2 separate regions of the Homo sapiens genome follow, and region 2 is linked to region 1. Evidence: fine-mapped expression QTL. Tissue or cell type: tibial nerve. Region 1 holds a variant in brackets; the other region holds the start of a gene. All regions are shown on one strand. Distances are between the middles of the regions.

Region 1 (5,145 bases):
TGCATTGAATGAATCTGACTTCTCGCCCCATCCTCCTACAGAATGAAGGAATGCCCCTCTCCCCTTCCCCATTCTGACAGCTTTGAGTTTTCCTATCCGTTTGCTGAATTTTTATTGGGCCCTGCTTTGTGCCAGGCACAGAAGGGGATGCTGTGGGGCCTCAGAGGTGAACAAGAGTTTCCTCTGCGTACCTAATGATCTCGTATTGTTGGTTAAAAGTCACTGCCTTTGGTCCCTCAGCCCAGCTGGTACTGGTTCTGGTCCTGGACCAGGACTGGTTCTCTTGTGTTCCCACATCCCTTAGCACAGCTGAGCACACAGTAGGGACTCAATTCATGCTGGGCAAAGGACTGTGCTCTGGGGATGCTGTGTTCAGGAGAAGTTGCCCTAATCAAGGACAGCACCAACCCCAGCCTCCAAGCCCCCTAGGATGTTACACTTCCTTTCTGACCAATCTGTAGGCTGCCAGCCTTGTAACTGTGAGTTTCCCTCTCCCCTGACACCTGACTGAGCTGTGAATAACCCCTAAATACCCTAGAGGAGCTGCCAGTCACAGAATCTGACTGCTGTTTTTCTGTTTTGTAAGGCTAAATTTTCCCCTGTGGGTTTCTCTTAAGGGGGGCCAAGCTGTGTTTCTCTTCAGCCTGCATATTCTCTCATTTGCCAGTGTTACCTTTCCAGGCAGCAGGAGAAGCCAGCCTGGACTTAACAAATGACGGTGGTTAATCCACAAGGTGGGTAATTGAATTGACTATAATTAAAATCACAGGCGTGTCATGGAGAATGTCTTTTTCTCTTAAAGTCACCGTCCAAAGCCTTTGCCGCACACAGAGCTCGGAACGTGCTTGGTGTTTTAAAGACAGCCTTCCCTCTGGTCCCCTTGGCCTGTTTAATACGAGCAGGCTGGTTCCCTTCCCAAGGCCCCCCTAGGATCCCCGTGCTATGCCCGGCTCCTTCTCTCCCCACTTCCCCCATCCCCCTTGCCCATGTGGGTGAGGGCTACTGGGAGAGGGACGGAAACTGGAAGAGGCCACCACCCTCCATGCCCCCACCCCCACCTCCCCATTTTTATCCCATCTTGTACCCTGTTTCCTCTTCTTTTCCCCTCCTCCCCAAGAAAGGGCCTAAGTGAAGACTGAGCTGGGAAGTCCCCAGATGGAGTATCTACTGCAGACCCGTCATGCCACCTCCTCCCTCATTTAGCTGCCTACATCTGGAATGCCCTTGTTGAAAGGGAAGGAGGAAATTAAGGTGCTTGCTGCTGTTAGGGAGCACCCAGTCTCATAGGGACAGGGAAGACCCTGCCCTACACACACAGAAAATATTTGACCACATTCAGAGTGGTCAAATACACCATAACATACAATGTGAATGGAATGGAAAAATAGAGAGAATGTGGAGCAAAATAAGATCAGGGTGGAGAGGTTGTAATCCAGGAACGCTTCCTGGAGGAGGAGGATCCTTGGTTTCATTTCTAAGGTAATGTAATATTTATCCAGGATTTCTGAGAGGTCAGCTAAAAACCTAACCCACCAGACTCCAGATCCACTTCTTATCCTATATTGCCCAAAAGCCATCGTGACTACATGACAATTCTTGCCAACCTATAGTCACCAACCTATAATCACCTGCTGGGGGCAAAGGCAGGCCCAAGGGGTTTGCTTCATTTTGCTGCAGAATTTCTTTCTTCTTCTTTTTTTAATCATGCCTATCACAGTTTTCTGAAAAACATCCAACTCACAAAACCTCCAGTTCTCCAGGGAGCGATTAAATGTTTGCCTGTCGTGCAGAAATGAAGGGCTGCTTTTACTCTGTAGTGGAGGGATAATGAGCAATGATTTATTTCCTTTGGATTACACACACACAGACTCTCTCTCTCTCTCTGCCTCTCTCTCTATCTCTCTCTCTCTCCTGGCCCTTCTGTGAGTCAGTTGCTAAGGCACTGTGGGGAGAAAGCACAGTGCCTCCCATTACCCTGAATCTTTACCAACAGCGGCATGAAAGTTCCTCTGCTCCATGGCTCTCTCCTTACTGCTGCCAATTCCCACCCATCCATGGGTCATGCATAGGCTGAGGGAGAGCTATCAGGAGGCTGTGAATCAAGAAGGGAGAAGTGTGTCTCCAGCAGGAGGGAAACCGGGCGAGTCAGCTGGCACTTTCTAAGCAGGCCCTCCCAGACCACTCCCCATCCGCCCAGAGGCCGTGAGGTCTCCTCTCTGCCCACCCAGTCCCTTTGAAAGGCCTTGATTGGGAACAACCTTCCTTGGAGGCAGGGTGGACACTGACCGCCCAATCTCTGCACCTCCCACCTCTGCAGAATCTTGTCTGAAAATCCAATTCCCCTCATACAAGAAGGAATTGAGGATTATTCATATATTCGTTCAAACACTGCTAGGTGCTGGACTGAGCCTGGAGATCTAGGAAGCAAAGTCTTTCTTGGCCCCCAGGGCAAACTACCAGGCTAGACACACAGTGTGGCAGTAAAGTAGAAGACTATGGGAGCCCTTTAGCCTGGCTTGAAGCAGTCAGAGAAGGCTTCTTGGAGGAGGTAGGGATGGGGGTGAACAGGAATTGTTCCATCAAGGGAGAACAGAAGCACAAAGGTTTGCAGGCTCTTGTGGGATGGATTTGGGGAAGTGTGAAGTGTTTTAGTGTGGCTGGGGTGGAGAGTTTAGGGAATGTAAAAGGTGAAGCATCATTCTTTCAGGGGATCAGTAAATAATCACTGTGCCAGGCACTGGACTTGGGAGGACAGTGGACCAGAACCCAAGGGCCTTCGCAGGAGTTGGACTTTTCCTGGGGGTAGTTGGGAGCTATGGATGGGTTCTGGGCTGGAGAGTGACATGACCACATTTGCATTTGAGAACAAGCGTTCAGGTTGCTTTGTGGGAAAAGGACTCGAGGGGCAGGCCTGGAAGCCAGGCTGGTTAGGAGGCTGTTGGCACTGCTCCAGACAAGAGCTGGTGGTGGCTTGGATGTAG[G/A]TGGGATACAGTGGGAAAAAAGTGGATGGATTTCAGAGGCAGTGTAGAGGTAGAACAGGCAGGATTTACCAGTGTGTACTTATGTGGCTAGTGAAGGTCTGGGGGAAGTCAAGGGCGAGTATAAGTATCCCTTCATGCCTCTGTGGGGAGGGTAGTGCCCTCCTCTGAGCTAAGGAGTGTGGCAGAAGAATGACTACAACACCCACTCCCAAGTCCCTAGGGGCACACAGAGGTGGGCAGGTGGCACCAGGTCTCCCGGGTGCCACCGCCCCACTTCCCCCTGACTTTCACCCTTCTGTTCTGTGGTCTGCTGCGATGCAGCTGGGAGCCTCTGGCCCAACAGTAACCACAGGGTTGCCTCTCCCTCCACCAGACCTGCAGCCGTGGGTCTCTAACTTCACCTACCCTGGAGCCCGGGATTTCTCCCAGCTGGCTTTGGACCCCTCCGGGAACCAGCTCATCGTGGGAGCCAGGTAACAAGGGGCAGAAGGGTCGGGGTGGGAAGTGCAGGGGCTTGGAGCTGGGTAGAGGGAATATTATTCAGGATGAACTCACCTGGGCAGCCCCGCGTGCTGGGCCCCATCCTCTCTGCTGGGCCCTCTCCTTGTGGATGTCTGTCCCCCCACAGGAGGAAGCGTGTTTCGGCTGGGTGGGGGTGGGGGTGACTCTTGACCTCGCAATCTCAGCCAGCTGCAGGCCCCTGTGGTTGGCAGTTAGTGAGAGCAGGGACGCCTGCTGGCCACCTCCTGCCCGGTCCCTGCCTGGTCCCTGCCCGGCTGTCAGAATGGTTTTCTGGGCCAATTCCCCGGGAGTTCCATGCAGAGAAGGTGCCCAGGGGCCCCCTGCCGGCCAGCCGGCGGCCTGCACCTGGGACGGCTGGGTAGGGGTAGAACCTTTCCCGAAGGACCTCACCTACCTTTGGCCTGACCTCTTAGTCCACTGTTCAGATCCAATATCAACAGACAGTACTCTCTGGGGGAACCTGTGGAGACTTTCTGGGTGGACTAGGAGGAGCTCATTCCTCATGAAACCACAGAACATTGGCTCTGGTAGGGAGGGGGCTTAGAGAGGGCCGACCCCAGTAGCTCTCATGGTGCAGTCTCTGGCCCAGCAGCACCCGAGAATGTGTTGGAAATGCAGATTCTTGGGTCCTTCTCAGACCTCTTGAGTCAGAAACTCTGGGAAGAGGCAACCTGTGTTTTAGCAACCCTTCCAGGTGGCCTGACCACACTCAAGTTTGAGAATCTCTGGTGTCATCCAACCGTCCTTATTTTAAACAGGCGGTAGCAGAGGCACTGAGAGGGGAAGGTGACCTTCCCAGCATCACATAGCATGATGACAACAGGGTGTGGGGACTACAGCCAGGTCTCCTTAACCCAGGCCTAGAGTTTCTCTGCAGGTCTGTCTGTGTTATCGCCTGGGACTGCACTACTTTTCAGCTCTGCAGCCCAGAGGTTCTGACTCAGTGGGTGTGGGGTTGGGGAGAGGATGGCCACTGGGTTGGGCACTTCCGGGCCATGCTGTAGCTGACCATCCTTGCCCTGGAGCTTTCTTTAGTGTCTCCACCCCTTCATTTGCTGTATGAAAATGAGGCAAGTCAAGAACACAGCTCTGGATTAGGTGTGGATGAGCTGGGTTCCTGTCCTGGGGGATCTTGACCTTGGAGCCTCAGTTTCCTCATCTGTAAAGTCTGGGTTACAGTCTCTGTGCCACCAGTCTCACAGGGCTGCTGTGAAGCTGGGCCTGAAAGCATTTTTCTTTTAATTTTTTAATTTTTAAATTAACTATTTTGTCTTATGGTAGGACATTCAAAAGGTACAAAGGAGTATATGGTGAAAAGCAGGGCCACCCCCTCAAACAAGCAGGACCCCTGACTGAAGGTTCACCTAGTGGTGAGGTTCCTGACTGTGCCCCCAGAGGGAGTCTGTCCATATGCAACTATACAGGAGGATGGACTTTATTTTCCCAGCAAAGAGAGTAATTGTTTTACTCTCTATTTTGAGATGACTGTCGATTTACACACAGTTGTAAGAAATAATAGAGATCCCATATACCCTTCACCCAGTTTCCCCCAAGGCTAACATCTTGCATAACTGTAGGACAACATTAAAATCAGGAAACTGGCCTTGATGTGATCCTTCAACCTAATTCTGATTTCACTAGT
Region 2 (5,145 bases), 84 kb before region 1:
TTTTTCTTTGCCATCCCCAGGCACAATGAGCAGGCAATTCTGGGAGCAGAAAACAATTTGGACATTATACGTGCTGTCTTTTTATTTTCAATTCTCTGTCTCCTATTAGTATATGACTGGCTGTTTGCCTTTTGCTGCAAGACAAGGTTTGTGTTTGTGCCTGGGCTATGCACAAGCATGTGTACACACACACACACACATAGAGGGGAGAGAGAGAGAGAGAGAGAGAGAGAGAGAGAGAGAGAGAGAGAGAGAGAGAGAGATGGCCTCTTGGGAGAGCCTGCACTCATTTTTTAGCTTTATCTCCCAGAAAATGCCCTCAGGTGGGAGGAAGAAGACAGTGTTGTGCTCCTAGCTTTTCCACCCTTTCCTGCTCTTGAGCATGAGAATTTGGATCTATTTCTTAAACTCTTTCAACCTTAGTTCAAGATAAGTTTGGAATTTCTAGGTCAAGAGTGAATCCTAAAAACTCCGTCACCCCCTATATTCACCGCTCTTTAGCTTGTTTGCTTGAGATAACACTGTGTTAATTACTATATTTCCATTCTGCTTAATTACAATGTTTCGGTAGAAGAAGAATTGCTCCTAACAGAAGCAATTATCTTATAGGTTATTGCAAAGGTCTAAGGAAGGTGGCAGAAGCTGGTTGTGATACTGTGGTGATGGAATCAATGCTCCAGGTTTTGTTCCAAGTAAATGATTCAGAGATTCTAACCAGGCTGGGTTTGCCAAAGAGCAGGTGGTAAGCCAGGCCAGTAAAGAAACTGTCTCTTCCGGAGGGTTGGGCTTCTGAAGCTCTCTTGTATTGAGAGCTCTTGAGTAATCACTGTTAATCAATACAATGCTTTAGGATGCAATTAGGATTAATTAGCCCAATGTTGCTAGCTGCCCTGCTACTTGGTCTGTCTCTTTGGGTGCCTCCTTGTCCTGGCTCCTGCTTCCCCTGAAAAGGAAAATTTCCCTCTTTGTGTCCCCAGCCTGGAGTCTCCTCTCTTCCCTTCCTGTGCCAAGCCCCCAAACCCCCTCTCCACTTTATAACATGGAGAGGGAGAGCCAGGAAAGGCCTTGACATGATAGTGGGAAGAAAAGAATGAACACAATCAAAACATGGTAGCAAACAAGAGGGCAGGTGAGAGAATGTGTGAAGGGTGGAGAATATTTTGGTTATCTTTCAAGGGAGAGCTGTGGCTGACAGAGCCACTCAGAAGGCATTTTGTCTATTCTCCCAACCAGACAAATTGGAAGCTCTCCTGTTCATTCCCTGGTCCTGCAGTATGGAATAGCTTCGTGGTTTTTTGTGTTAATTAAAAGGTATCTCTATATTGCACATACTTCTATTTTTTGTGATGACAAAAACATTCCCCATGGCTCTGCAGGGAATGGGGGTTGGGGGGGGGGCACGCTCATTGCAGTGGAAAGGTTCCACGGTGGAGATCAGGAGACCTATCCCTATCTCAGCCTGGGACTCTGGGAGAATGGTCCAGAGCTCATTGTCCTTGTTGATAAAATGATAGATTTGGACTCAATATCCCATGCTGCCTCTTCCAACTTGATTTTTACCCCAGACTGGGCTACCAGACTGGTATGCCCACACATGCCCGTTTCCTTTCTTTTCTTCTCTGCATCTCTGCCTTTGTGTCCAGAGCGTGTTTTCCCTTTGCAAGTTTCTCTCCATTCTGCACATTATGAGTTTCAGCATTTCTGTTGCCCTAGAAAGTCTATCTTTGAGATCTTGCACTGTTTCTCTTTTTACAGTGTCTCATAAACTCCCTTCTTGGATTCAGAACCACCCTTTCTTTCCCATTATCCTGTCAAACTGCTTCTTGCCATGGTCCAGGGGTAGGAGGATGGCAGGCAGGAGGTGCTTCTCTGGGGCTCTTAGTGTCTCAATTCTTCTGCTTTATCTGGGTTTTCCTTTACCCAGAATTTTATTATGTAAAATGCTTCACTCAGACTTTGTTCTAATTATCCAATTTTTGGCATACTCTAGAAAGTCTTTTGATATTTTCCTTCCTCCAACTTATCTATTTTTATTTCATAGTTCTCTTTGGTTATCTCTTAGAATCACACTTTCCTGGTTTTAATTTTTCAAATCCTTTGTCTTTCTCACTCGTTCTTAGGTCACCTTTTTTTACATTTTCAAATATATTTTTTGTTCAGCAGAGGGCTCCCTTCCCATCCCTCTTGCAGCCCGGGCAGCTAGGATTTGAAGCTTGCCCCTTGAATCTTTCTCTCCCGCCTTCTAGCCATCAGAAACACTAGATCACTTAAACTTGTAAACAATTCGGCCTCGCTCCTTGTGATTGCGCTAAACCTTCCGTCCTCAGCTGAGAACGCTCCACCACCTCCCCGGATCGCTCATCTCTTGGCTGCCCTCCCACTGTTCCTGATGTTATTTTACTCCCCGTATCCCCTACTCGTTCTTCACAATTCTGTAGGGTGCGTATTACTAACCCCAGTTTACAGCTGAGGAAACTGAGGCTTGGAGAGGTTCGCTCGGTATCGTACAGTTTGCAAGGTTAACCCTAATCCGGCCAGTTCTGGCTTTCCAGCCCAGCCCAGCAGCCTAGCCTCCCTCTCTGCCGCTGCAGGTTATAACGGCTCTCCCCCGTTTTACACGAGGTCCCTTCCCCTTCAAATCCACAGGCAGGAAGATCGTTCCGAACTGACGGGGCTGGGGAATGTGGGAGTCCGGAGTGGGGTTTGGGGGAGCTTCCTCAGGCCCTGAGTGTTGGGGTGGGCAGGCCGCGCCGATGGCCCTCGGGGATGTCACATTCGAGATGGGGTGACCGAGAACGGCAAGGCGGGATGTGGCAAACGGCGGCAAGTGCTCGGAGTCCTAGGTCTTGCCGCCGGAATGCCGGCCGGGGAAGGGGCTTCGGCCCACCGGGCTGGTCACCACACTCGGCAGGCCCGGGGCGGGAGTCGGCCGAGCAGCCGCGGGATGCAGGGCGCCCCCTCGCGCTCCTCCGCGCGCCTCGAGGCTGGCGGGTGCAGCGCCCGCCGCGGCAGGTCTGCTCCAGCCCCCTCCTCTTTTTCGCTCCCGCTCCCCTCCTTCTCTCCCTTTGCTTGCAACTCCTCCCCCACCGCCCCCTCCCTCCTTCTGCTCCCGCGGTCTCCTCCTCCCTGCTCTCTCCGAGCGCCGGGTCGGGAGCTAGTTGGAGCGCGGGGGTTGGTGCCAGAGCCCAGCTCCGCCGAGCCGGGCGGGTCGGCAGCGCATCCAGCGGCTGCTGGGAGCCCGAGCGCAGCGGGCGCGGGCCCGGGTGGGGACTGCACCGGAGCGCTGAGAGCTGGAGGCCGTTCCTGCGCGGCCGCCCCATTCCCAGACCGGCCGCCAGCCCATCTGGTTAGCTCCCGCCGCTCCGCGCCGCCCGGGAGTCGGGAGCCGCGGGGAACCGGGCACCTGCACCCGCCTCTGGGAGGTGAGTCCCGGGAGCCCCGGGCGCTTCCCCTGCGCGGGTTGGGGCTGCAACTTGCAAACTTCAGCAACTCGGGTGGGTATCGGGGTAGAGAGGTAGGGGTCCGGGCTCTGGCAAGTTGAAGCCAGGTAGGTGAGGCTGCGGGCGGGAGGACAGGGGGTCCCCTGGCTTCCGCGCCTCCCGCTGCCACCTCGGCTTGAGAGCCCTCATCGCTGCTGCGTTCCCGCCGCCAGCCAGCTTGGGTCCGGGTTGCACTGGGCCCTGCCAGGGCTGTGGTCGGCGCATCTGGGCTGCAGCGGCGATGGGGACCCGGGACCCAGGCCTGGAGAAGGAGACGGACGAGTGAGGCTGAGGGACGGAGGGACAGAGGTGCGGAGATGGAGGCTCAGAGAGGGCCGGCTAGTAAACAGCACTGAGGGAGAGTGCGGGCGGCGAGGCGCGTGGGAACGCGTGGCCCGCCCAGAGTGTGAAATCTCCCGCTCAGGGACGTCCCTGCTCCACCGCCGCCGCCTGCGGAGCCGCCGCCCGGATTCTTCCCAGACCCGCCTCCAGGACACTCTTGCCCTGACCAGGCCTGCGGAGCGTGAACTCTGCCCACCAGGCTCCAGGGGCAGTGGCTCAGGGCCCCGCACTCCCGGCTGGGAGGGTGGAGAGGGGTGCGGCAGCTGGAAGCAGGGACGCGAGCGGCGATTTCCCGATTTATGTTTCTCATGGTAATTTGTCTTTGTGGTTGGGGCTGCCCATTCACTTTCCGCTCACGTCCTGCGGGAGATCCAGCGAGGAGGGAGGGAGCGGGGGGCGCTCGGGCACAGAGAGGGATGCAGACGGGAGAGGGGATCGGGGACCCGCGCGGGGCGGGAGCCAAGAGGGAAGTGGTCGCCGGACCGGCGGAGGAAGAAGGCGAGGCTCGAGAAAACCCGGCCCAACGGAGCCGACTCCTTTGCCCACCGCAAACTTTAAACAAGGAGGAGGATCACCTGCAGCGCCGTTCTGGCCCCCTCCTCCCCGCCCCCGCCCCCCACCTCGAGCCCAGTCTTTGGGTAGTTCCGACTGCCCGCCGCGCCAGGCGGGAGTGGGCCGAGAGTCTGGATGGGGAGAGAGGAGCGCTGGATTCTGCCCGCACCCCTGCGATCCTGCCCAGGCTTTCTGCAGAGGGGCGGGGTGAGAGCAGCAGGAGCCGGGAGGGCGGGCTACCCTGGCATGCACTCCTTCCCGGCCAACGGAATTGGGACTGAGGGTTTGGAAGCTTGCCTGTGTCTAGACCTCACCACGATCCTACCTTCTCTGGCCCTAACCCCATCTTTTTCCTTCAGCCCCTAGTGAATCCGACCTCCTTCCGCTTTTCTCAGGCACCCCAACCCACTTCGGCCTCGGGGCCTCTCTCCACAGCCCTCCCTGCCTGCTTGCTCCTCGGCCTCCCCACTTCAGCTCATCTTTTTAAGCCTGTTCTCTTCTTGACAATCAGCAGTGGCCTCTCACCTTTTCTAAGCCGGGACAGATGACCTTGAGGAAGGGGCAAGAGGGGAACTTGAACCTTGTAACTGGACCTCAAGATTACGGAAAAGGGGGGCAGATTTGAAAGCAGCTTGGAAAGAAACAGCCAGTACCTTTCCCGAAGTCTAGATTTTCAACGGAGGAGGAAAGGAGATAAAATATAGGAGAGATGGGGGAACTTGCCACTTGGTCACTCATGGGGCGGTGAGAACTGTTCTGGGCCTTGGGGCGT

What was found. PIP is the estimated chance that this variant, and not a neighbour inherited with it, causes the effect.
Region 2: it holds the start of SEMA5B, and the variant in region 1 is fine-mapped to the expression of SEMA5B in tibial nerve (GTEx, PIP above 0.99).

What each region holds. Positions count from the first base shown.
Region 1 is chr3:122,941,745-122,946,889 of GRCh38, reverse strand. SEMA5B (semaphorin 5B) reads left to right here. Exons shown (of 23, transcript NM_001031702.4): 4 at 3,355-3,454. Among named protein-coding and RNA genes, the nearest start is that of LINC02035, 58 kb to the right of the region's middle. The variant G/A (reference allele first, on the strand shown) is at 2,982.
Region 2 is chr3:123,025,741-123,030,885 of GRCh38, reverse strand. It overlaps SEMA5B (semaphorin 5B), which reads left to right and starts at 3,123. Exons shown (of 23, transcript NM_001031702.4): 1 at 3,123-3,422. RefSeq lists an enhancer at 2,012-2,519.